Linked DNA regions of Homo sapiens. The protein of the gene in region 2 purifies or fractionates together with the protein of the main gene of each other region. This does not show direct contact. Each region holds a gene or a part of one and is shown on either strand. Other genes may lie near its edges.

The links.
Region 1: the proteins of SEC13 (region 2) and NUP98 purify together in Homo sapiens (affinity purification with mass spectrometry; 6 studies listed by BioGRID and IntAct, with this or other methods). This does not show direct contact.
Region 3: the proteins of SEC13 (region 2) and SEC16A purify together in Homo sapiens (co-immunoprecipitation; 5 studies listed by BioGRID and IntAct, with this or other methods). This does not show direct contact.
Region 4: the proteins of SEC13 (region 2) and NUP85 purify together in Homo sapiens (affinity purification with mass spectrometry; 7 studies listed by BioGRID and IntAct, with this or other methods). This does not show direct contact.

What each region holds. Positions count from the first base shown.
Region 1 is NC_000011.10:3,787,555-3,794,588, reverse strand, and holds part of NUP98 (nuclear pore complex protein Nup98-Nup96 isoform 1 precursor), read left to right. Parts: intron 1-7,034. UniProt on the Homo sapiens protein: Plays a role in the nuclear pore complex (NPC) assembly and/or maintenance. NUP98 and NUP96 are involved in the bidirectional transport across the NPC. May anchor NUP153 and TPR to the NPC.
Region 2 is NC_000003.12:10,300,397-10,304,112, forward strand, and holds the end of SEC13 (protein SEC13 homolog), read right to left. Parts: coding exon 3,630-3,716; intron 979-3,629; coding exon 865-978; 3' UTR 752-864; coding exon of another isoform or gene 710-751; 3' UTR 535-709; downstream 1-534. UniProt on the Homo sapiens protein: Functions as a component of the nuclear pore complex (NPC) and the COPII coat. At the endoplasmic reticulum, SEC13 is involved in the biogenesis of COPII-coated vesicles.
Region 3 is NC_000009.12:136,459,007-136,466,040, forward strand, and holds part of SEC16A (protein transport protein Sec16A), read right to left. Parts: coding exon 6,956-7,034; intron 5,557-6,955; coding exon 5,414-5,556; intron 4,735-5,413; coding exon 4,673-4,734; intron 4,596-4,672; coding exon 4,457-4,595; intron 4,127-4,456; coding exon 3,881-4,126; intron 2,269-3,880; coding exon 2,171-2,268; intron 1,118-2,170; coding exon 1,036-1,117; intron 869-1,035; coding exon 751-868; intron 550-750; coding exon 438-549; intron 234-437; coding exon 128-233; intron 1-127. UniProt on the Homo sapiens protein: Acts as a molecular scaffold that plays a key role in the organization of the endoplasmic reticulum exit sites (ERES), also known as transitional endoplasmic reticulum (tER).
Region 4 is NC_000017.11:75,215,673-75,222,706, forward strand, and holds part of NUP85 (nuclear pore complex protein Nup85), read left to right. Parts: intron 1-81; coding exon 82-151; intron 152-2,512; coding exon 2,513-2,634; intron 2,635-7,034. UniProt on the Homo sapiens protein: Essential component of the nuclear pore complex (NPC) that seems to be required for NPC assembly and maintenance. As part of the NPC Nup107-160 subcomplex plays a role in RNA export and in tethering NUP96/Nup98 and NUP153 to the nucleus.

The DNA.
Region 1 (7,034 bases), on a different chromosome or scaffold from region 2:
TTGGGAGGCCGAGGCGGGTGGATTGCCTGAGCTCAGGAGTTTGAGACCAGCCTGGGCAACATGGTGAAACCCCATCTGTACTTAAAAAAAAATATGAAAAATTAGCTGGGCGTGGCAGCATGCGCCCATTGCCCCAGCTACTCGGGAGGCTGAGGGAGGAGAATTGCTTGAACTCGGGAGGCGGAGGTTGCAGTGAGCCAAGATTGTGCCACTGCACTCCAGCCTGGGCGACAGCGAGACTCTGACTCAAGAAAAAAAGAAAAGAAACAAAACAAAACAGTATGTATTAGAGGCAAGGTAGGTAAACATTTCCTGAGAACTTGGTGCATTCTTTTTGTTTGAAATTGACCGTAAGTATTTGGCACAGTATGGCTCTAGAGAAAGGTTTCTCAGCTTTGGAACTTTGAGACTTTGGGCCAGATAATTATCGTGGGGGCTCTGTTGTATATTGTAGGATATTTAGCAACATTCCTACCTCTACCCATTAGATACCCATAACACATCCTCTGCAGGTTGTAACGATCAGGAATGTCTGAAGAAATTGTCAGAATTGCCCTTGATTGAGACTACTACTTTAGTGAAAATATTTCACATGTATTTATTTATTTATTTATTTTTTGAGACAGAGTTTCGCTCTTGTTGCCCCGGCTGGAGTGCAATGATGTGATCTTGGCTCACCGCAACCTCCGCCTCGTGGGTTCAAGCAATTCTCTTGCCTCAGCCTCCCGAGTAGCTGGATTACAGGTGCGTGCCACCACACCCAGCTAATTTTGTATTTTTAGTAGAGACAGGCTTTCACCATGTTGGCCAGGCTGATCTGGAACTCGTGACCTCAAGCAATCCACCCGCTTTGGCCTCCCAAAGTGCTGGGATTACAGGCGTGAGCCACCATGCCCAGCCATAATTACCACATTGAGGAATTTGTACTTAATTCAGTGTAATGGGAAATACTTGCAGTTTTTTTTAGTAAGGAAAGAAAAATTCTTAAAAATATAGTGGTAGCTGGCCGGGTGTGGTGGCTCACACCTGTAATCCAGCACTTTGGGAGGCTGAAGCGGGTGGATCACAAGGTTAGGAGTTTGAGACCATCCTGGCTAATATGGTGAAACCCTGAATCTACTAAAAATAGAAAAATTAGTTGGGCACAGTGACACGCACCTGTAGTCCCAGCTACTGGGAGGCTGAGGCAGAGAATCGCTTGAACCCAGGAGGCAGAGGTTGCAGTGAGCGCAGATTGCACCACTGTGCTTCATCCTGGGTGACAGAGCAAGACTCCATATCATAAAAAGAAGACCTCTAAATGTACCAGTCTTTGCATTCTGACATATATTATGTTGTTTTGTTTGAAGTATGTGAAGAAAATCTAGCCTCATACAGATACATAGTTGGAAAAGAGAGGAGTATTTTAATGGCCTTTTCAGATAATTCTAACTGCTCTTTGACACTACAGTCAAACCTTTTTATTTGTTTGTTTTTTTGAGACGGAGTCGTGCTCTGTCGCCCAAGTCGGAGTGCAGTGGCGCTATCTCAGCGTACTCCAACCTCCGCCTCCCAGGTTCAAGCAATTCTCCTGCCTCAGCCTCCTGAGTTGCTGGGACTACAGGTGCACATCACCACGCTGGGCTAATTTTTTGTATTTTTAGTAGAGACGGGGTTTCGCCATGTTGGGTTTGAACTCCTGGCCTCAAGTGATCCGCCTGCCTTGGCCTCCCAAAGTGCTGGGATTTCAGACGTGAGCCACCGTGCCCGGCCTCAAACCTTTTTAAAGGTTCATTACAGTATGGAATCTGAAACTGTGTCATTGAACTTTTGTATTCTGTTGTATTAAAAACCATTGGTCTGTGTTGTACTTTGAATAGACCTTTACACTTCTGTGATTTTATAACATGATGCATGTTGATTTTGAAATTATTGATTTACTGAGTTATGCAGATCTTCTTTTTTTGTTGTTTTTTTGTTTGTTTGTTTCTTTGTTTTTGAGACAGAGTCTTGCTTTGTCACCCAGGCTGGAGTGTTGTGGCACAATCTTGGCTCACTGTAACCTCTGCATTCCGGGTTCAGGTGATTCTCATGCCTCAGCCTCCTGAGTAGCTGGGACTACAGGTGTGTACCACCACATCTGGCTAATTTTTGTATTTTTTGTAGAGACGGGGTTTCAACATGTTGACCATGGCTGGTCTGGAACTCCTGACATCAAGTGATCTTCCCGTCTCGGCCTCCTAAAGAGCTGGCATTACAGGCATGAGCCCCATAGGCCTGGCCCAGATATTCCAGATGTTGACAAATTTAATTATACAGTTGTTTCTGTTTCCACCCATCTCATCAGATAAGTCTTTTTAAGAATTGAGAAGCTTATGACCTGATAGTGGTGAATACATGTTTTTTTTTTTTTTTTTTTTTTTTTTTTTTTGAGATGGAGTTTCACTCTGTCACCTGGGCTGGAGTGCAGTGGCACGATCTCGGCTTATTGCAAGCTCCACTTCCCGGGTTCACGCCATTCTCCTGCCTCATCCTCCCGAGTAGCTGGGAATACAGGGGCGTGCCACCATGCCCGGCTAATTTTTTGTATTTTTAGTAGAGATGGGGTTTCACCGTGTTAGCCAGGAAGGTCTCGATCTCCTGACCTCGTGATCCGCTCACCTCCGCCTCCCAAAGTCCTGGGATTACAGGCATGAGCCGCTGCGCCCAGCCGAATGCATGTTTTTGTAGTTGTAATTTTTGTATCAAAATTTTTTTTTTTTTTTTTTTAGATGTAGTCTCACTCTGTCGCCTAGGCTGGAGTGCAGTGTCGTGATCTCGGCTCACTGTAACCTCGCCTCCTGGGTTCAAGCAATTCTCCTGCCTCAGCCTCCTGAGTAGCTGGGATTACAGGCAGGTGCCACCACACATGGCTAATTTTTGTATTTTTAGCAGAGACAGGGTTTCATCATGTTGGTCAGGCTGGTCTTCAACTCCTGACCTCGTGATCTGTCTGCCTCGGTCTCCCGAAATGCTGGGATTATAGGCATGAGCCACCATGCCCAGCCTTTCTTTTTTTTTTTTTTTTTTTTTTTTTGAGACGAGGTCTCGGTCTTTCCCCCAGGCTGGAGTACAATGGTGGGATCTCAACTCACTGCAACCTCCGCCTTCTGGGTTCCACTGATTCTCCTGTCTCCGCCTCCCAAGTAGCTGGGATTACAGGCGTCCACCACCATGCCTGGCTAATTTTTTGTATTTTTAGTAGAGATGAGGTTTCACCATGTTGGCCAGGCTGGTTTTGAACTGCTGACTTCAAGTGATCCACCTGCCTCGGCCTCCCAAACTGCTAGGATTACAGGTGTGAGCCACCATGCCCAGCCAGTACCAAATCTTAATAACCATAGTTTGTCAATCATTCTTTGAAATTAAAATGGTGGGCGGGGCGCAGTGGCTCACGCCTGTAATCCCAGCACTTTGGGAGGCTGAGGGGGGCGGATCACAAGGTCAGGAGATCGAGACCATCCTGGCTAACACGGTGAAAACCCGTCTCTACTAAAAATACAAAAAATTAGCTGGGCGTGGTGGCGGGCGCCTGTAATCCCAGTTACTCGGAAGGCTGACGCAGGAGAATGTCGTGAACCTGGGAGGCAGAGCTTGCAGTCAGCCGAGATTGCGTCACTTCACTCCAGCCTGGGCAACAGAGCCAGACTCTGTCTCAAAAAAAAAAAAAAATTAAAATGGTGTTCCATGAGAAAAACAACTACATTTAGCTTTCAAAAGTAATTACAGGTGGTTTGCCCCTTGATATCCTTTGTATTTCAGTAAGCAGAAGTTTTTGAGTATTTCCCAATACTGAATTAAAAAGAATTGTGCTGTAGTGTTGAGAAATAATACAACTAATAATTTTTGCTGCTTCATTAAGGACCCTTTTAAGTGAAAGTGGAATTTTTTATATTGTAAATGGGTGACAGTGAAGAATTCAGTGAGTGTTAGTTCAGCACCATTTGGGGTTGTTGCTTTGATTCATGCTGAGTTCCCAGCATTTTTGCACACCATTGATTTTGCACATCAGCACAGAGGTCAGAACAGTAAAGAAAAAGGGCAAAGTGTCTTAGTTTTATTGTGAAAATGGTTTTGATTTCATTGAACCCCTGGAAGAAGTGTTGGGGACTTTTAGGGGTCTTTGGGTCACACTTTGAGAACCACTAATCTAGAACAATATTTCACATTGGTTCATAGAGCCCTAAGCTGCTTCATAGGGCAGAGCTGGTGGGGTTCTACTGTACCTACTCCCTCTTCACTTCAGCCAGAGCAGCTTCTGCTTATGTCTGTTTTATATGTCGGGTTTCATGGCTAAAAAATATTTGAAAATCATTAGTCAAGGGGAAAAGAATTGAGCACCTGAATTAGGGCTGGTCTGTTCGTGAAGGGAACAGTTCATCCTCAGTAAATGTTACAGTCACTCATCACTTCACATCTTTAATTTTACTTCGTTTGACACAGAGCTTACTAGTATTTGCACACTCAACCTTCTTGATAGGTAAATGGGGCTGTGTGCCGTGGCTCACGCCTGTAATGCTAGCACTTTGGGAGGCTGAGGTGGGCGGATCACGAGGTCGGAAGATCGAGACCATCCTGGCCAACTTGGTGAAACCCCATGTCTACTAAAATACAAAAAATTAACCCGGTATAGTGGTGGGTGCCTGTAGTCCCATCTTCTCGAGAGGCTGAGGCAGGGAAATCGCTTGAACCCAGGAGGCAGAGGTTGCAGTGAGCTGAGATCATGCCACTGCACTGCACTCCAGCCTGGCAACAGAGCAAGACTGTCTCAAAAAAATAAATAAATAAAAAATAAGTAAATGGGCCTGGCACAGGGGCTCACCTATAATCCCTGCACTTTAGGAGGCCAAAGCAGGAAGATGGCTTGAGTCCAGGAGTTAGAGACCAGCCTGGGCAACATAGTGGCACATGCCTGTGGTCTCAGCTTTTTGGGAGGCTAAAGTGGGAGGATCAGTTGAACCCAGGAGGTCCAGGCTGCAGTGAGCCATGATCATGCCACTGCATTCCAGCCTGGGCAACAGAGTGAGACCTTGTCTCAAAACAAAAACCAAAAAAAAAAAAAAAAAAAAGAAATAGGTAAATGAATTTGTAAATTAAAAAGATGGATAGTTGGGAATAAAGACAGAGATGTGAGATAGATGGAAGAGGTTGAATGATCATAGTAATCTCAATATATTGTGTTTGTGCAGGGATGGGATTTGTTTTTGTTTGCAGTGGTGCTTTATGCTTGTGCTGAGTGATCAGTGGATGACACTTAAGCATTGAGAAATAAGAAATTATGGCATTCTAGCTAGCCATTGAACCAAAGTTTAGAGTGAGGGGACATTTATTATGCTTTTTAAATTATAAATACCTGTAAAATACCTGTTGAAAAATAAACAAAATGCTGCTTTTGAGGAGCTCTAGTTTGAGGCAGCTTTGTCCTCCTACCAGTCTTTTGGTGTAGGCTGTACAATCCCTATTGTTCAGATGTAGAAATTGAGGTCTGAGAGATTGAATATTATGACTTACAGTAGCAAGTGGCAGAGGAATTTTTTATTTTTTTAACTTTTTATTTTGAATTAACTTTAGATTTTAAGAGTCAATGATGGTAACTGACAGGTTTTTTTTTGGTTGTTTTTTTGAGATGGAGTTTCACTGTTGTTATCCAGGCTGGAGTGCAGTGGCACGATCTCGGCTCACTGCAATCTCTGCCTCCTGGGTTCAAGCGATTCTCCTGCCTCAGCCTCCCGAATAGCTGGGATGACAGGCATGCGTCACGACAACTGGCTAATTATGTATTTTTTAGTAGAGACGGGGTTTCTCCTTGCTTCTCAGGCTGGTCTTGAACTCCCGACCTCAGGTGATCCGCCCACTTTGGGCCTCCCAAAATGGTGCGATTACATGCGTGAGCCACCGTGCCCAGCCTTATACAGTGATTCTTAATAGTTAGGTATATATCCTTTCACTTTTAGAAATTTATTTATTTATTTATTTTTGGAGACAGAATTTCACTCTTGTCACCCAGGCTGTAGTGCAGTGGCGCAATCTGGGCTCACAGCAACCTCCACCTCCCAGGTTCAAGCAGTTCTCCTGCCTCAGCCTCCTGAGTAGCTGGGATTACAGGCATGTAGGCTAATTTTTGTATTAGTAGAGACAGGGGGTTTCACCATGTAGGCCAGGCTGGGCTCGAACTCCTGAGCTCAGGTGATCCACCAGCCTTGGCCTCCCAAAGTGTTGGGATTGCAGGTGTGAGCCACCGCGCCTAGCCGAGTGACAGTTTTAAATACAGATGTCTCACACCAAAGCTAATATACTCTTCACTCTAAAATGATTAGGGTTATGTTAAGGGGATGAAAAAAATGCTGCTCAGTGCTATTAGGAAGGAGCTTATGTAAGATGCTATGGACTATTTAAAATTAATTTACACCCAGTGAGCAAAGTCAAGACATTTTTTTTACCCAGAGCAGCAGACAGGTAAAACACTCAGGTGGCAGGTATAATAACAAATATATTGCATAACTAAAAGCAGCTGAGAGACACTAGTTTACGTAATCGGGGTTGGAAAGGAAGAGGGGAAGTAAAGTGTTTTATTTTTTTTGAGATGGACTCTGGCTCCGTCGCCAGGCTGGAGTGCAGTGGCCCGATCTCGGCTCACTGCAACCTCCGCCTCCTGGATTCAAGTGATTCTCCTGCCTCAGCCTCCCAAGTAGCTGGGACTAGAGGCACACACCACCATGCCCAGCTAATTTTTGTATTTTCAGTAGAGACGGGGTTTCACCATGTTGGCCAGGATGGTCTCGATCTCTTGACCTCGTGATCTGCCCGCCTCTGCTTCCCGGAGTGCTGGGATTACAGACATGAGCCACCGTGCCCGGCCTTTAAAGTGTTTTTATACTAATAAAGAGTTTAAGGGTGTGCGGCAGTCTTGTGAAAGCAGGTGAGGCTTGAGCAACAATTTTTAGGAAGAAAAGGAGATACGATTTTTAGAGAGGGTATGATGTTCTTTTTTTTTGTTTGAGACAGCGTCTTGCTCT
Region 2 (3,716 bases):
TGGCTATGGCGATTGTCAGGGTCACAGGGCCTCCGCTGAAAGGTGATACCTGGTTCAGGGTCAGTTAGGTCTCCCATCATGGGGCCCTCCTTTTCCTGACAGGGTCAATAAACTAAATGAATCGTGCCCACTTTCTGGGCCAGCATCTTAACTATTGGTGTTTGGTTAATACCACGTTGCACCTGCGTGGCATTTTGTAGGTCACCAGATGCACTAGCGTGTTTGAATCTTGCAGCCATCCTGTAGGGCAGACTGTATTAGTCCCATTCTGCAGAACAGGATGTGTACCGAGAGGGTAAGTAGCAGACCCAGGGCTACAGTCCTTGTCACCAAAGGCTGAGTCCAGTGCTCTGTATGGTGCTTTCAGTATAAACTGAATCAGAGATGCTCATGCAGTGACAAGCCACCTTTGTGCGTGGGGTTAAGCCAGGCCATCACAGCCGTGGCCTTTGTGAATAGTTTGTTCTAGTGCGTGGACCGACAAGAGTCAAACTGAGCTGGTGGGGTGGGGTGGTTAGGATAACGCAGCAGGAATTATAAGCAATATGACTTTATTTAGTTCCTTTGGAAACAAAACCCCCCAAATAATGCCTGAACCCAAAGGTACATAAAAATGACCCAAAATAGATTTGAACATCACTTGTAGTTTCTTCCTCGTAACATGAGTGCTTTCAGCTGGACAGTAGATTACAAAGCATCTCCGATCACGTTAAGGCAGATGATCAATCTGTGGCTGCATCTGTAACTCCTCCTGGGAAAATAATCCTGTTGGAGTTGGGGGCTCTTCCCAGTTGTCTGGTTAGTTGGCCCAGGAAGGGGCAGTCCTGGAGCTGGCGGGTGGGGAGCCAGGCCCCACCTGTCTTGTCACTGCTCGTTCTGCTGGCCCTCTGTCACTGATGCTGATACGGAGCCCTGGCCCTTGTTGACATCACTGATGCACACCCACTGCCCATCAACTGACTCCTTCCACAGGGTCACCTGCGAGTCAGTGCACAAGCAGATTATCACGGGTCTGTGCCCTTCCCTCTGCTGTCCCCTAAATATGAGCCTCATCCTCATCAAGAACCACTGCCCAGAGGCTTGTGGGTGAACAGAGCATGTCCCTCCTCCACTGAAATCTCACCAAAATGAGAGTCCAGGAATAAAAACTCACAGAAAAAAAGGAGTAACAATAACAGCAGCTGTGGATGATGATGTCAACACAGGATACTGTTTTCAGCAAACTGTGACAGAGCTACAGCGAGAGGATATGGGGTGGCGGGGAGCAGGGTTCGCAAAGTGTGGTCCCCAGACCAGAGCAGAGCATCGGTCACCTGGGAGCTTGCTACAACTGCAGATTCTTGGGGCCTGGAACAACTGATTAGGAAGCTCTGGGGGTGGGGCTGGCAATCTGTTTTAACAGGTTTAACAACACTGCAGTTTGAAAACTACTGTGGTAGAGGAAGGTAACAGTTCAATATGTTGTTTCTACACTGAAGTAAACTGTATAAGAAATAGCTAAGAGCTGAAAAGGTTTGCCCCTGGAGAGAAAATTAGGAGGCTGCATTAAAAAAAATCAGTCTAGGTCGGGCATGGTGGCTCACGCCTGTAATCTCAGCACTTTGGGAGGCTGAGATGGGTGGATCACCTGAGGCCAGGAGTTCGCGACCAGCCTGAACTGGTGAAACCCCATCTCATCTCTACTAAAAATACACACAAAAAAACTAGCAGCCACCTGTAATCTCCCAGCTACTGGGGAGGCTGAGGCAGGAGAATCGCTTGAACCCAGGAGGCGGAGGTTGCAGTGAGCCGAGACTGCGCCACTGCACTCCAGCCTGGACGACAGAGCGAGACTCGATCTCAAAAAACAAAACAAAAAACAAAAACAATCTAAACCTATGTACATATATTAGTTTGATTAAAAATGAAAATAACGATTTTGATTTTAAGAACTCTTGCTTTAGGGACAAACTATTCACTCAACACACTGCAGAATGCTCTGGGATTGAAAACATACTAAGTCCTTTAGGTAAGGGTGCTATGGAGACAGCGAAAGGAAACAGGCTTGTAAAGAAGAGCAAGAAGCCTAAATGCACAGTGACGGGCCCCACAACACTGCGTGCACAGCCAGGCACTTGCTTACAGCCTTGTAAAAAAGTCACTGGGGGCCTGCTTGAGGCAATCTGGGTCCCTTGGTCTGCCCTGAGTGCCATCAACCTGGGTTCTGGTCCTGACTCTGGCACTCACTAGAAATATGGCTTTGAGAGGGGGCCTGCTAGATCTTTCTGGGACCACTGTAGATGAAAGGGACCCTCGGCCAGAAAAGCCGCCTGCAGAGGCTCTCAAGATCTGCACACCCATGTTCACAGCCACACTATTCGCAATAGCTAAGAGGTGGCAGCAGCCCAGGTGCCCTTTGGTGGAGGAATAAGTGTAGAAACAGGGTGTGGGCTGTCTATACAATGCAACACTACTTAGCTTTACAAAGGAAGGAATTCTGACACATGCTACGTACAGCATGGAGGAACCTTAAGGGCATACTGCTAGTGACATAGTCGCAAAAGGACAAATACTGTATGATTCCACTTAGATAGGTCGCTAGAGCAGTCACATTCACATAGACAGAAAGGAGAAGGGTGGCTGCCAGGGCTGGGGAGGGGCAATGGGGAAGGGAGTTATTTAATGGGTACAGAGTTTCAATTTTGCAGCTGAAAAGAGTTCTGGAGACCAGCTGCTTCTCTGCCTTGCCTGTGTTGGTTGTGCCGTGAGCCACACAAATGAAAGGTAAGACATGGAGCCAAAGTGGCCACTGGGAAACAGTAAAAGACCAACATAGGCAAGGGAGAGAAGCAGCAAGGGCTGGCAGGATCCAGACCAACTCGCACTTCAGGCGCAGAGCAGATGTGCCTGAAAACGCAGCACAGCCACTCCACGTGGAACTGACCCTGCGGCGTTAGAGATCCTCTGTCTTATAGGGGAATTCAGCTGGGCAGATGGCTATGGCTTGTTACTGCTTCCTTTCTGCGGGTAGCTTTTTTCCTTCTAATTGTAAAATACACGTCACATAAAATGACCTTGGCCACTTTTAACTGCACAGTCCAGTTGTGTGAAGTACATTTGGGTCCCTGAGCAGCTGGTCTCCAGAACTCTTTCAGCTGCAAAATGCAAACTCTTCCAGTGCACCCACTGTGTACCTGCCTCTTACCAGCATAACAAGTATTCATAAACTCTAAAGGTTTTTAAAAAGCCTTTTCAGTGTTATGGACAAAAAATATCCCCAATCTTCTTCTGTTTATGGGTTCTTATACACTTGCCTTTTTGGCACAGCTAACTGAACATCACCATGAGGTGACCAAATGCTTAGTAGGGTGATGGGCCTGACTGGCTCTGCCACCTCATAGTTTTGGGACCCCCATGCAAGTCAAATCGCCTCTGTCAGCTTCTTTCCTCATCTGTGAAAGGGGGACGTGTTAATACTACCTCAGGGGCTGTGACATTAATGATGTAACTAAGAGGCACACTCAAAACGCAGTCCTGGCTAAGGCTCCTGCCCAGCCTGCAGTCAGATGGGAATGTCAAGTGCCCTCTCTAGTGGGCGGGGTGAAGACCAACAGGCTGTGTCCACCATGCCACGGGGAATGGGTATGTACCTTATTGTCTCCACCAGAGACAGCCAGGATGTTGGCTGTGATGGACCAGCTCACATGCCACACCACATCGTTGAACTTGTGCAACAA
Region 3 (7,034 bases), on a different chromosome or scaffold from region 2:
GATCCTCCCCCAAAAAACTCACATCATTTTTTTCGATACCAATTCAAACAATCTAAGTAGCCAAAAGCTTGTTAGCACTGAGTGCCTGCCCAGCCATGACAGCTGCAGGCTGGCAGCACCTGCTTACCTGGAAACTAGGCAGGGGGCAGGTCTCGGCACCCAGGGACTGGGCGTACTCATAGGCTTCCGTCCTCTGGATTGCTTCGTTGGTTGCGAACTTTAAGAATGGCAAACTGTAGAGGAAGTGAATTATTTTGATTTGGAAAAAATGGCCAATTATTGGCATAGTCAACCTTGGAGCAAATCATCCAGAAGTGTGTCCCACCACGTGACAAATAAAGACATGATTCTGGCCATTTCTGAATTCACTAAAGGAGAAGGATTTTGTTTTACTTTGAAAGGAAAACTTACAGGACTACACTGACTTGGTTCTTTACCTGTGATTGGATCCGATTAAGACAAGCTTTGTAGTTTTCTTCGTGTAAACACCAAATCCCGCCTGGGCCATGAGGTAGCAGAAGTGGGCCGCATCCAAGAGGCCCCTTGAAGCTGCGGAGAGACGACACGACACACGGCGGGGGCTCAGCGACCGGGAGCGCTTGCAGAAGTCAAGGACGCGCACAGAAGGCACCAGAGACGCCAGCCGGACCGAGAAGGCCGGGTTCTGGTGATTTCTGCCAACGCCACAGACAACCGGGCCTTCGGCGCTCCATCCGCGACACCCAATGCCCATCTCCACCCCTGACCTACCCAGAGTGTCGCCCATGGTAGCCATCGTCCTGGACTCGACGTCCATGTTGTTGTTCAAGTTGGACAAGACCATGGCGAGGTGCGGCCTCCAATCTCCCCATTTCTCGTCTCCACAGCACTAACATGAGGAAAAACAAAACGAAGCCTCATCCCCGGAAGCCAGCGCCATTTCAATTCCACACAGCTGGGCTCACCAGGCACCTCACGGCCTGTGACAGCGTCACCCACGAGCAAACTCCACACAGGCAGTGGAGCCTGTGCAAGCCACCAGGCAGTGCCACTCACCGTGGACGCGGCAGGCATCCGTCCGGACATGAGCTGGTAGACTGTCTGCAGAGGGTCGTTGATTGGGAGGCTGTTAGCAAACCTAGGCAGACATAAACACAGAAAGACCCCATGCTGGCTCAGCTAAAAGAAAAAAGCCGGCCGGACATGATGGCTCACGCCTGTAATCCCAGCACTTTGGGAGGCCAAAGTGGGCGGATCACCTGAGGTCAGAAGTTAAGAGACTAACATGGAGAAACCCCATCTCTACTAAAAATACAAAAATTAGCCGGGTGTGGTGGTGCACACCTATAATCCCAGCTACTCAGGAGACTGAGGCAGGAGAATCGCTTGAACCCAGGAGGCAGAGGTTGCAGTGAGCTGGGATCGTGCCACTGCACTCTAGCCTGGGTGACAGAGCAAGACTCTGTCTCAAAAAAATAAATAAATAAAATAGTAATAAAATAAATTTTTTAAAAAATCAGCCCTAAGCCCTCTGATGTAATGATTAGACTTATATTTCACTTAGGCAAAGTACACACATCTCAATATTTTATTTTTCTTTCTTATCTCAATATTAAAAAAAAAAAAAAAGCTGTAAAAGATAAGGCCAGGTATGGTGGCTCACGCCTGTAATCCCAGCACTTTCAGAAGGCCAAGGCGGGCAGATCCCTTGAGGCTAGGAGTTTTGAGACCGGCCTGGCCAACATGGCAAAACCCACCTCTACTAAAAATACAAAAAATTAGCTGGGTGTGGTGGTGGGTGCCTGTGGTCTCAACTACTTGGGAGGCCAAGGCGTGAGGATCACTTGAACCTGGGAGGCAGGGGTTGCGGTGAGCTGAGATCGCGCCCCTGCACTTCAGCCTGGGCAACAGAGCAAAACTCAAAATTTAAAAAAAGCTATAAAAGATGAAGACTGAGGAATTCACTGAGATTTTACATGAAGTACTAAAAACCATGCAGTTAATTAAAAACTTTTTAAGCTCTCCACAACACGACCCAAGGAAGCCTCGAGGCCAAGGAAGCCCGAGTTCGTGTGGGAGCACAGCACAGTCAAGTGAGATCCGCCTGCCGCCTGCCCCCAGGGTGCGGACGCCGCGTGCTACAGGGAGCCAGCAGGGCTCGCCACTGGACCAGGCCACTGTGGGACTGTACCTGGTCATGACTCGGGCGTGTGTCCGGCTGTCCATCTTACTTGCAAGTAGCAGAGCGTGACCCCACAGGCCATTCTTCATTGCAGACTCCAAAGCATCCTGCAAAAGGCATTTCAGGGACCTTGGTGGGTTATCGGCGGCGCTCACGTGACATGAGTCAAGACAGGCCATGTGTCCTCACGCAGCAGCAGATACACAAACAACCCAAAGGCCTCAAAAACACACTTATTCACCATTTGGAGACTAAAGACACGTAGCGATTCATTATTTTCCTGAGTTTCAAAGTCCCTGTGGTAGTGGGTATTTGTAGATATTTGCTGCTTTTATCCATTTTCAGCATAAAACACAAGCACGCTAATCACAAACAGGGCTAATCACGCAGCGCTGCCCACCACGCCGCCCCATCCACTGGGAAACACGCTCGAGTCAACTCCCCAGTTCTAACAGGAGGCCTCCGCGAATATCCTGTCAACACGGAGAGTGACTCCAGTAAGGCAGCCTCCCCTTTCACCAAAATCATCCAGGGCATAATTTAGAACTTCTGGCTGGGAGGCAAAAACGTTACAGTAGAGAAAGATGTTAATAAAAGCTAACAGGTTACATGACTTCAATCAGTTATAAAACATCCATAATAGACTCATACTGATCAGGCCGGGCGCGGTGGCTCATGCCTATAATCCCAGCACTTTGGGAGGCCAAGGTGGGCGGATTGCTTGAGCCCAGGAATTCGAGACCAGCCTGGCAACATGGTGAAACCCCGTCTCTACAAAAAAAAAAAAAAAGTTAGCCAGGCGTGGTGGCATGCAGCTGTAGTCCCAGCTACTCAGGAGGCTGAGATGGGAGGATCACTTGAACCCAGGAGGTCGAGGCCACATTAAGCTGTGATCACGCCACTGCACTCCAGCCTGGGCAAGAGTGAGACCCTGTCTCAAAAAAAATTAAAAATAAAAAAATAAAAATACTGGTCAAATATGCCCTTTCTGAGTTTATCATGATATAAAAGGACAGAAAACTCTCAGCCTATCCCATGTCTCTGCTGTTCAGGGCCACACATGCTTCTGAGACTGGCCTCTCTCCTGCTTAGCACATCCAAAGCAAACATCATGCACCCTAGACAGCCCCTCCTGTGCACATAGTGTCACTGCTGCAGTCACTATGGACCCCCCAACCCCACTGTCCCAGAGCAGGCTCCTGTCTCAGGCCCCCCACCTGCCCCAGTCCCCACGCTGCTGTGACCCCAGTCACTGGACGCTACACGCACTGGCTGCTCTCTTGCCCATGGCCTTTCCATGCACTGCGCCTCTGACAGGTTCAGTGTGCCCTCCCAACTCCCAATGACTTCTGGGCTGTGGACTCGAGTCTGACTTTGTGAGAATGCCACAACTTGTGTCATGCACATTTCATCCGAGATTTGGCACACACAGCAGGGGCACGGCCTGTGCTCAACATGTGCATTTATCGAATAACTGAAAATTTAATCTGCAGGTCTCCAACACTGGAAACAGTTAGAAGGAAACCAACATTAACACCTCCAGAAGGATGGCATACAAGAGTCAGGCATTGTTCAGGAAACAGCAAGACCCGAAGCCCCACACTGCAGCGCGGATGCTCCCAAGAGGGGGCCACGTCCCTCCCTGAAGGCTGCAACCCCGCACCAGGCCCGACCCAGTGGACATGTGCAGGCGCCAGGTGCCATGATGAGGAGGCGCACCTTCTTACGGCCATACAGCAACAGCTCCCTGAACCTCTCGGTCTCTCTCTCGAGCGAGCTGGCGGCAGCCGCCGGACCACCAGTGAGGAAAGAGAGCTGGGCCTCACCAGACTCCTCCTCTTCCACCTGCTCCACTGCCTCATTCGTGAAATCAATCAGGTTTGCTTCATTGGGCGACTTCCCAGGAAGCCACACTGTTCTGTGGTCTCGTAACAGAAGCTCCGCAATGTCGGTCCCTACCACGGTCTGTTTGGGTCAACAGGAACAGGAAGGAGAACAACGGCTCTCAGGTGAGGACGCGTTGGACCACCACAGGCACAAAGCCCCACCCTGGACACAGCCAGACCCACAACTACCCGAAAGGCTGGCAAGGCTGGGCTGAAACCTCATCCCATCCCAACCGCACGTTCCCTCTCCCTCCCTACCCAGCCACTACAGTGTGCTTCCTAAGGGGGCCCTCGAGGCTCCCATAGCTGGCCACGCGGATCCCGCCCTGCTCCTTCGGGAGGCTGAGCATTCCCAAGACGAAATGAAGACCAGCAAGAAGAAACACTCTAGAAGTAGAAAGAAACATACCCCATTTTGTCTGCATAAGAGAACAATAAAATTCCAAAGAAGACTTGCAGACTCTTTGTCAATTAAGTTTTCATTCTGCAAACATTTCATAGCTTTGTTCTGTGCAAAATTAATGACATCCACCTTATGGGTGTCGTCTCTGCAGAAAGAACACACAGTGAGCAGTGATGTCTGCAAGGCCGGGCTCACAAAGAAATGCCTCAACAAGGAACATACTTGGCCAGGGGTCCCGGGAACGCCCGCATCTCCTCCTGCTCAGACGTGTGCTGCAGCAAGGCCTACGAGGAGAGGGCCGTGGGTCAGTGGCAGCCAGTGCGCAGCCACCCTGCTGGCAGGCCGGCCAACCCAGGCACGGATGCTGCCCGTGAGAGGAGAGGATGGCATGGCCCACCTGCCCCGCCCCACAGCAGGTGAAGGCTCTGTCGAGGCTGTTACATGGAACATGGCCTGTGTGGACCACAGCCATGATTTCAAACTTTATTTTAAGTAGTGAAATCCATTTTCTCTCCCCAAATACTGAGGCAGAACCCCAATACATGTGACAGAAGCCTGCAGAAGCTGCAGGAAGAGGCGCATGCCAGCCCCCGTCACCTCGGCAGCGCCGTGCACGTCCACCCCACCCGCCCCCCTCACCTGGGCAGCACCGGGCCCACCCACTGCATCTATCATTGAAAAGCACCAATAAAGCAAACATCCCCAAAACGAGGACAGAAAATGCATATACAATCAAACCACGTTGAACACCCAAGGCAGACGCTTACAATACTGACTTCTAGGAGGAAAAATATATGATCAAATAGAAGAAAAACCCTACAAATTGAAAATTCACAGGAATAAACATTTTCCAAGGACGTATGTCCAGAGACAAGGTCTGACAATTGAAGATGACAAACTGCAAAGCAGAGAGTTCCCCAGGGCAGCAGAGCAGTGACGCCACGCTTCTGCGTGTGCCATTACCTCCATGCTGTGGACCTCCACCAAGGCCGGCTGTCCTTCTGAAGGCAGATTGGGAATCACTTTGATAAGCTGACCGCCAGGGCCAAACCTGGCACAGACATGAGGCACTGAAAATTTTTCAGGAGAAGTTGGTCTTGATGAAACTGCATTTAAAATAAATTGAAAAAGAAACAATCAGCTTGTCACTGATGCTTCTGAGCCTAGATTTTCAATGTGCTCACACAGCTTAAATCACAGGTTAGATTTATCACGACAGACTTCCAACTCAAAAGTCGGTAATTGTTTAATATCATACTTAAAAGTAGAACTTCAGCATACGTCAGGAAAAGAAAAATGTCTGAATCATTAAGCATGAAAGCTGTTCCCTTGTACACTGAGAAAGCTCCCGCAACACCCTCATGAGCCGCCCTGAGGCTCCTGCCACGGTGCGTAATCCTCCCAGGCCTGGCCCACTCCCGAGCTCTTCCATTTTCACAAAATCAAATTCAGACTGCGATGACCACACAGCACCCAGCAAAAAGGACAGCAAAACACCTCAAGCAAAAAAGAAAATAAGGAGCCAGGCATAGTGGTGCATGCCTGTAATCCCAGCACTTTGAAAGGATCCAAGGCAGGAGGGCCACCTGAACCCAGGAGACAGAGACCATGACCGTGCCACTGCACTCCAGCCTGGGTGACAGAGTGAGACTCTGTCTCTTAAAAAAAAAGAAATGAAAAAATGTTAACTGAAACAATACTTTAAGAAAGTAAGGCCGGGCACAGTGACTCACACTCTAATCCAAGCATTTTGGGAGACCGAGGAGGATGGATCACTTGAGGTCAGGAGTTTGAGACCAGCCTGGCCAACATGGCAAAACCCCATCTCTACTAAAAATACAAAAATTAGCTGTGCATGGTGGCAAACACCTGTAATCTCAACTACTCAGGAGGCTGAGGCAGGAGAATCGTTTGAACCCGAGATGCAGAAGTTGCAGTGAGCCAAGATCACATCACTGCACTCCAGCCTGGGAGACAGAGTGAGACTCCATCTCAAAAAAACCAAAAAACAAACAAACAAAAAAACTCAGCCTACCATTAAATTCTGTAACTTTATATCTTTACGTATATTTCTGCAATTTGCCAAGAAAAAGCATTTGAGCATCCTGGAAGGGAACTCTGACTGACACGCGGGACAACTGCAGGAGCGGAGTCTCCAAGGGGAATGAGCAGCTCCCTCCTGCACGCCTGCTGAGCCACGGGGTCTGCGATGGGGATGTGATCAGGGGCTGCCCAGAGCCTGGATATGAGCTGTCCTCAGAGTCACACTTTAAAACGCATGTCGGGGCAGGCAGGGCAGCTCTCAGGCCTTAAACCAAACTGCAATCGAAGAGACAGCATCGGCCCGTCCTGACACACCCTGCTTCTCGGAAGGACGGATTGGGTCAGAGCCAGGCCAGGACATCACAATTCCAATCCCAGCCCTGACTCCCGTGTTCAGATGCCAGGCTGGGTGGCCGCCCCAGTGGGGTTAGCCGGTATCCCTCTGTCCTGCTGAGCACACACCTTGCTCCATGGCAGGCCAGACGGTGTCGGCAGGGTAGCCATACTCTGGGAAGCCGGGGCCACTGCTGAAATTGCTGCG
Region 4 (7,034 bases), on a different chromosome or scaffold from region 2:
CAAAGTCTGCTTTATCCCTTGGCTCTGAGAGCAAAGCTCAGGAATCATTTCAGGTGAAACCTGTCCCCATTTCTTCCTTAGGTCTCCATTTTGTCAGCAATGGAGCTCATCTGGAACCTGTGTGAGATTCTTTTTATTGAAGTGGCCCCAGGTAGGCATGGAATATCTCACCATAATCTCATAGGTGTCCCCTTCCATCTTCTGCTCTTTCCTCATCTTTCCTGTGCATGGTGATGAGTGTTTTATTCCTGAGAATGTTCTTTCCATCATTATAACCACGGGAAGTCGTTAGAAAACACCCAAAGAAACCTGACCGTTTTGTCAGGTGCTGCAAAAAGAATCATGCAGAGTGCCTCCAAGAAACCTAAACCCTGACAAGTACTGAGAAATATTAAACTAGTGTGTGAAAGGGGGTGTCAGTGTTAACATCATGGACTGGCCAAGCTTAAGAAAGTTTTATGAATGTGGGGTAGGATTAGGTGGTGAGAGGCAAAGTCACATTGGGAATTCTGTCATGAATCATTGGGACAGGGCAACTCTGTGTGTTAACTCTGCCAATGGGTATGAACTCTGCCAATGGGAATTTTTCTGTTGATCTTTTTTTTTTTTTGAGACAGAGTTTCACTCTTGTTGCCCAGGCTGGAGTGCAATGGCGTGATCTCAGCTCACCGCAACCTCCACCTCCTGGGTTCAAGCGATTCTCCTGCCTCAACCTCCTGAGTAGCTGGGATTACAGACATGCGCTGCCACGCCTGGCTAATTTTGTATTTTTAGTGGAGATGAGGTTTCTCCATGTTGGTCAGGCTGGTCTCGAACTCCCAACCTCAGGTAATCTGCCTGCCTCGGTCTCCCAAAGTGCAGGGATTCCAGGTGTGAGCCACCGTGCCCAGCCTTCTGTTGATCTTGAATTAAACTGTGGTCAGTATAGTGTCATGGCCTGTATGAGCTCTCTGTGGATCTGCTGCAGCTTTTTTGCATTTCTTTTAAGGATTTATGTTTGCTATTTTCCATAAATGAGTAGTAACCTCTGTGTAGCCCTAGCATTTTATTCATACTCTCACTAAAGAAGTGAGGAACTTGAAATTAGAGTTGGTTGTTCAGAGGCCTCCCTTCTCCAGTGGATTTTTGAGGAGGTTACAGTTGGCTCTTTGTATCTGCAGGTTCTACATCATGGATACGGAGTGCTGGCTGTACTCTGCCATTTTATTTCATTTTATTTTTATTGATTGATTGAGACAAGTTCTCACTCTGTCACTTAGGCTGGAGTGTGGTGGTACAATCACAGCTATTGCAGTCTGGACCTCCCAGGCTCAAGCGATCCTCCTGTCTCAGCCTCCTGAGTAGCTGGGACTACAGGCACGTGCCACCATGCTAGGCTAATTTTTTGTGTGTATATGCTGGGGGAGGGGAGACAGGGTCTTGCTCTGTCACCCATGCTGGAGTACAGTGGCGTGATCACAGCTCAGAAGCCTCGACTTCCTGGGCTCAAGCAATCCTCCTGCCCAGCCTCCCAAGTAGCTGGGACCACAGGCCTGCACCACCACGCCCGGCTAATTTTTGTATTTTTTGTGGAGAGGAAATTTCGCTATGTTGCCCGGGCTGTTCTTGAACTCTTGGGCTCAAGCAGTCTGCCCATCTTGGCCTCGCAAAATGCTGGGATTATAGGCGTGAGCCACCATTCCTGGCTCGGCTAATTTTTTATTTTTTTTTGTAGAGATGGGGTCTCCCTATGTTGCCCAGCCTAGTGTCAAACTCCTGGGCTCAAGCGATCTGCCTGCCTCAGCCTCCCAAAGTGCTGGGATTACAGACATGAACTACCATGCCCGGCCATATGTTTTGTTTTGTTTTGTTTTTTGAGACAGAGTCTCACTCCGTCACCCAGGCTGGAGTGCAGTTGTGCGATCTTGGCTCACTGCAACCTCTGCCTCCTGGGTTCAAGCAATTCTGCCTTAGCCACCTGAGTAGCTGGAATTACAGGCATGCGCCACCACGCCCGGCTAATTTTTGTATTTTTAGTAGAGACAGGGTTTCACCATGTTGTCCAGGCTGGTCTTGAACTCCTGAGCTTAGATGATCCACCTGCCTTAGCCTCCGAAAGTGCTGGGATTCCAGGTGTGCACCACCAGCCCCCTGGCCCTATGTTTTTATCATCATTGCATACCTGGCTGCTTGCTATCTAGTCATTGTTGGTTCCTAAACGGCCATTACTTATGTAGCTATTAAGTATTTGTGAAGAATCTGGAGTGTGGGGTAGTGAGGTCTGCATTCCATGTTCACCCCTTTCTGGGGTCAGTTAAAGATGGAGCTGCCTGGCACAGAAGTAATATTTGGTGAAAGTGCATTTGCTTTTTCCTAGCACAGTCTGTCATTCAGGACCATGTGTGTGACTGCTTAAAAGGGATAAACCTATGTAGTCAGCTTGTCTGCCTTAAAGTTCTCTGTTCCTTGGATAAAGGAACTTGCTGCAGATGAAGCTGAGGCTTTTGTGTGTGATGAGAGTCTCTCCTCCCAGCTGGCCCTCTCCTCCTCCATCTCCTTGACTGGGTCCGGCTCCATGTGTGCGAGGTGGACAGTTTGTCGGCAGATGTTCTGGGCAGTGAGAATCCAAGCAAACATGACAGCTTCTGGAACTTGGTAAGACAGGCCGGGCCCCCACCTCCCACCATGTGTCCTACTGTCCCTGGTGCTGCCGGGTGGGTCTGAGGACACCCACTGAGCCTCCAGCAGTAGGCTGGCTTTTGGAGTCTGTTACTATGGAGACTCTTTTGGATCTTTTCTTCCCTGCTCTATGGGAGAGTCTAAAACCGAGGTACCATGTAAGAAAAATAATGCTTTGAAGACTTTTCCAGGGTAAAAGGAAATTTGATTTCTTTGTGGATCTAAGGAAGAGAAGACACAAAAAGGAATACAAAACCGTTTTTTTTTTTTTTTTTTTGAGACAGGGTCTCGGCTGGGTGCGGTGGCTCATGCCTGTAATTCCAGCCAGCACTTTGGGAGGCCAAGTCAGGAATCTCTTGAGCCCAGGAGTTTGAGATTAGCCTGGGCAACAAAGTGAGACCCTCCATCTCAAAACAAATTAATAAATAAAAATATAAAAGAGAAAAGATAGTCCGACTCTGTTCCCCAGGCTGTTGTGCAGTGGCCTGATCTTGCTCACTGCAACCTCCGCCTCCTGTGCGGTCCTACCACCTCAGCCTCTCAAGTAGCTGGGACCACAAGTGCCAACCACCATGCCTGGGTAATGATATAAAACCAATTGACAGGGGCTGGGGTGCATACAGGGTTGGATGTAAATGAGCTTGCACATTACTTTGGATCATCAGTTTCGAAGTCAGCATGTCGTATATGTGTATATGGATGTATTTTCTATGTGTTAGGTATTTCCATTCACCTCTGCTGACTGACCCAATTGGGAGGTGGCAGGGAGGAGATCGCTAGTTGACTGGGCTAATGGAAAGTCAACTAAACTTATAAAGCCTGAAATTGGGAACAGATTGTGAGGACAAAAAAAAAGAAAAGAAAAGAAAACCTGGAATTCGGCCCGGCACGGTGGCTCACAGGAAGTAGTGGGCCAAATGTTTGAGTCTCTGATTGATTCGCTAAGGTTTGTTGTTGTCGTTTAGAGACAGGGTTTCGCTTTGCGGCCTGGGCGGGAGTGCAGTGATGCGATCATGGCACAATGCACCTTTGATTTCCTGGGCTCAAGCAATCCTCCCACCTCAGCCTCCTGAGTGGCTGGGACTACAGGCGCACACCACTACGCCTGGCTAGTTTTATTTTTTGTAGAGGTGAGGTTTCACTGTATTACCCAGGCTGGTCTTGAACTCCTGGGCTCAAGCAATCCTTCCACCTTGGCCTCCCAAAGTGTTGGAACTGCAAGTGTGAGCCACCATTCCTGGTCATTCACTGAGTATTTATTGAGTCCCTACTATTTGCAAGGCACCAAGGAGACACCATGACTAAAACAGGCAAAGATTCCTGCCTTTATGGAGTTTATATCCTGTGTGTGGAGAAAGAACAGCAACACATAGGCTAGTACCATGTATCCTGGCACATAGTGAAATGCTCTGCCAAGGTGCCAAGAAGGGAGGGAGGCTGCAAGTGCTGGAGGGGCATCGAAGAAGGCCTCCCTCATGAGAGATTGGAGGTGAGACCTGAAGGAGGTGAGGAGAGCTAGGCTGAAGAAAGCATTCCAGATAGCAGGGCCTGTAGATGCTGTGTTCTAGAGCCAGGGTGGGGCAGGAGGGGCTGTGCTATGTAGGGGTAGGTGGGAGGGATGAGCTGGGGAGATAAAGACAGAGCGATACCAGGCCAGGTCTGAGACAGCCCCCTGGGCTGTCACTGAGACTTTAGCTTTTTGCAGCCTACATAGCAGGGTGACTAACAACATGGTCTGTGGTGCCACACTGCCTGGGTTAGCATTCCAGCTCTGCCTTTTACTAGCTGTGAGGTGGGTTTTTTTCCTTTTTTGAGACAGAGTCTCTCTCTGTCACCTAGGCTGGAGTGCAGTGGCGCCATCTCAGCTCACTGCGACCTCTGCCTCCGGGGTTCAAGTGATTCTTCTGCCTCAGCCTCCTGAGTAGCTGGGACTACAGGCGCGCGTCACCATGCCCAGCTAATTTTTGTATTTTTAGTAGGGATGGGGTTTTACCATATTGGCCAGGCTGGTCTCAAACTCCTGACCTTGTGATTCACCCACCTTGGCCTCCCAAAGTGCTGGGATTACCAGCATGAGCCACCATGCCTGGCCTTTTTTTTTTTTTTTAAATACAGTTTCACTGTGTTCCCCAGGCTGCAGTGCACAATCACCAGTCACTGTAGCCTTGGCCTCCAGGTCTCCAGTGGTCCTCCTACTTTAGCCTCCCAAGTAGCTGGGACCACAGACATGTGTTACCACCACCAGCTAAAGTTTTTATTTATTTATTTATTTTTTGAGATGGCGTCTTTCTCTGTTGCCCAGGCTGGAGTGCAGTGGCGCTATCTCAGTTCACTGCAACCTCTGCCTCCCTGGTTCAAGCAGTTCTGTCTCAGTCTACCAAGTAGCTGGGATTATAGGTATACGCCATGATGCCCAGCTGGTTTTTGTTTTGTTTTGTTTTGTTTTTTGTATTTTTAGTAGAGATGGGGTTTCATCATGTTGGTCAGGCTGGTCTTGAACTCCTGACCTCAAGTGATTTGCCTGCCTCCCTCCATCCCACCATCCCAATTTTTTTTTTTTTTTTTTTTTTAGCTGGAGTCTCGCTCTATTGCCCAGGCTGGAGTGCAGTGGCACGATCTCGGCTCGCTGCAAGCTCCGCCTCCCGGGTTCATGCCATTCTCCTGCCTCAGCCTCCCGAGTAGCTGGGACCACGGGCGCCTGCCACCACGCCTGGCTAATTTTTTAATTTTGTTTAGTAGAGACGGGATTTCACCATGTTAGCCAGGATGGTCTCGATCTGACCTTGTGATCTGCCTGCCTTGGCCTCCCAAAGTGGTGGGTTTACAGGCGTGAGCCGCCACGCCCGGCTAACCCAATTATTTTTTATTTTTATTTATTTATTTTTTGAGGCAGAGTCTCACTCTGTTGCCCAGGCCAGAGTGCAGTGGGGCGATCTCAGCTGGGATTATAGGCTCTCGCCATCCTGCCTGGCTCATTTTTTTATTTTTAGTAGAGATGGGGTTTTGCTGTTTTGGCCAGGCTGGTCTCGAACTCCTGACCTCAAGTGATCCGCCTGCCTCAGCCTCCCAAAGTGCTGGGATTACAGGCTTGAGCCACCATGCCCAGCCAAATTTTTTTATTTTTTGAACTCCTGGCCTCAAGCAGTCCTGTTGCCTTGGCCTCCCAAAGTATTGGGATTACAGGTGTGAGCCACTGTGCCCGGTCACTAGGTGTGAGATCTTGAGTGAGCTACTTAACGGCCTTAAGGGTCCTCATCTGTCCAGTGGAGATAATAATACCTGTCCCATGGGGCTGTTGTGATCATTAAATTAGTTAAAGGACATAAATGTGGGTGAAGTAGTTGACACGGTTGATGCACAGTAAAAGCTAGTCTTTTACTTCTAAGCCATATGGGGTGAGGGGGCATTGGAGAGCTGAGCAGAGGAAGCCTGAGATCTTACTTAGGTTCCCAAAGGCTGTCCTGGCTGCCATGTTGAGACTACAGCAAGGATGGAAACAGGCCAGTCTGGATTCTGCTGTACTAAGCCAGGTAAAAGATGGTGGTGGTGTAGGCTAGATATGTTTGAAGAGAGTTGATGGGGTTTGCTGATGGATTGATTTGATGTGGGCATGCAAGAAATAGAAGAATGTGGGAGGATAAGGTTGGTGAATTGGAGGCAAACTGGTATTTAATTTTAGACATGTTTCTCTCGTGTGTGTGTGTGTTTTGTTTTGTTTGTTTGTTTGTTTGTTTTGAGACAAAGTCTCTGTTGCCCATGTTGGAGTGCAGTGGTCAGATTACAGCTCACTGCAGCCTTGACCGCCTAAGCTCAGGTGATCCTCCCCTCCTAAGCCTCCCAAGTAGCCAGGACTACAAAGGCGTGCCACCATGTCCAACTAATTTTTGTATTTGTAGTGGAGACGGGGTTTTGCCATGTTGTCCAGGCTGGTCTCAAACTCCTGGGCCCAAGCAATCCACCCTCCTTGGCTTCCCAAAGTGTTGGGATTACAGGCGTGAGGCACCATGCCTGTCCGACATGTTACGTTTTAAGATGCCTATTCAAGATCTAAGTGGAGATGTTGACTAGGCACTTGGATATACAAAGCTGGAATTCAGACAAGGAAGTTTGGGCTAGAGAGGAAAAGTTGGGAGTTATCAGTATGTATATGTTTATATATTTGTGATTTTTTTTTTTTTTTTTTTTTTTTTTTTTGAGATAGAGTTTTGCTCTTGTTGCCCAGGCTGGAGTGCAGTGCCTTGAATACTGAATTAGTGAATATTGAACCATTGCTCCTAGGGGAAATACAGGGTTAGGTTCCTGCAAGCCTCTGGTCATATTTTGTTCAACCAATCAATATATAACCGATCACTTGTTTTATGTGTGTATCTGTTTGG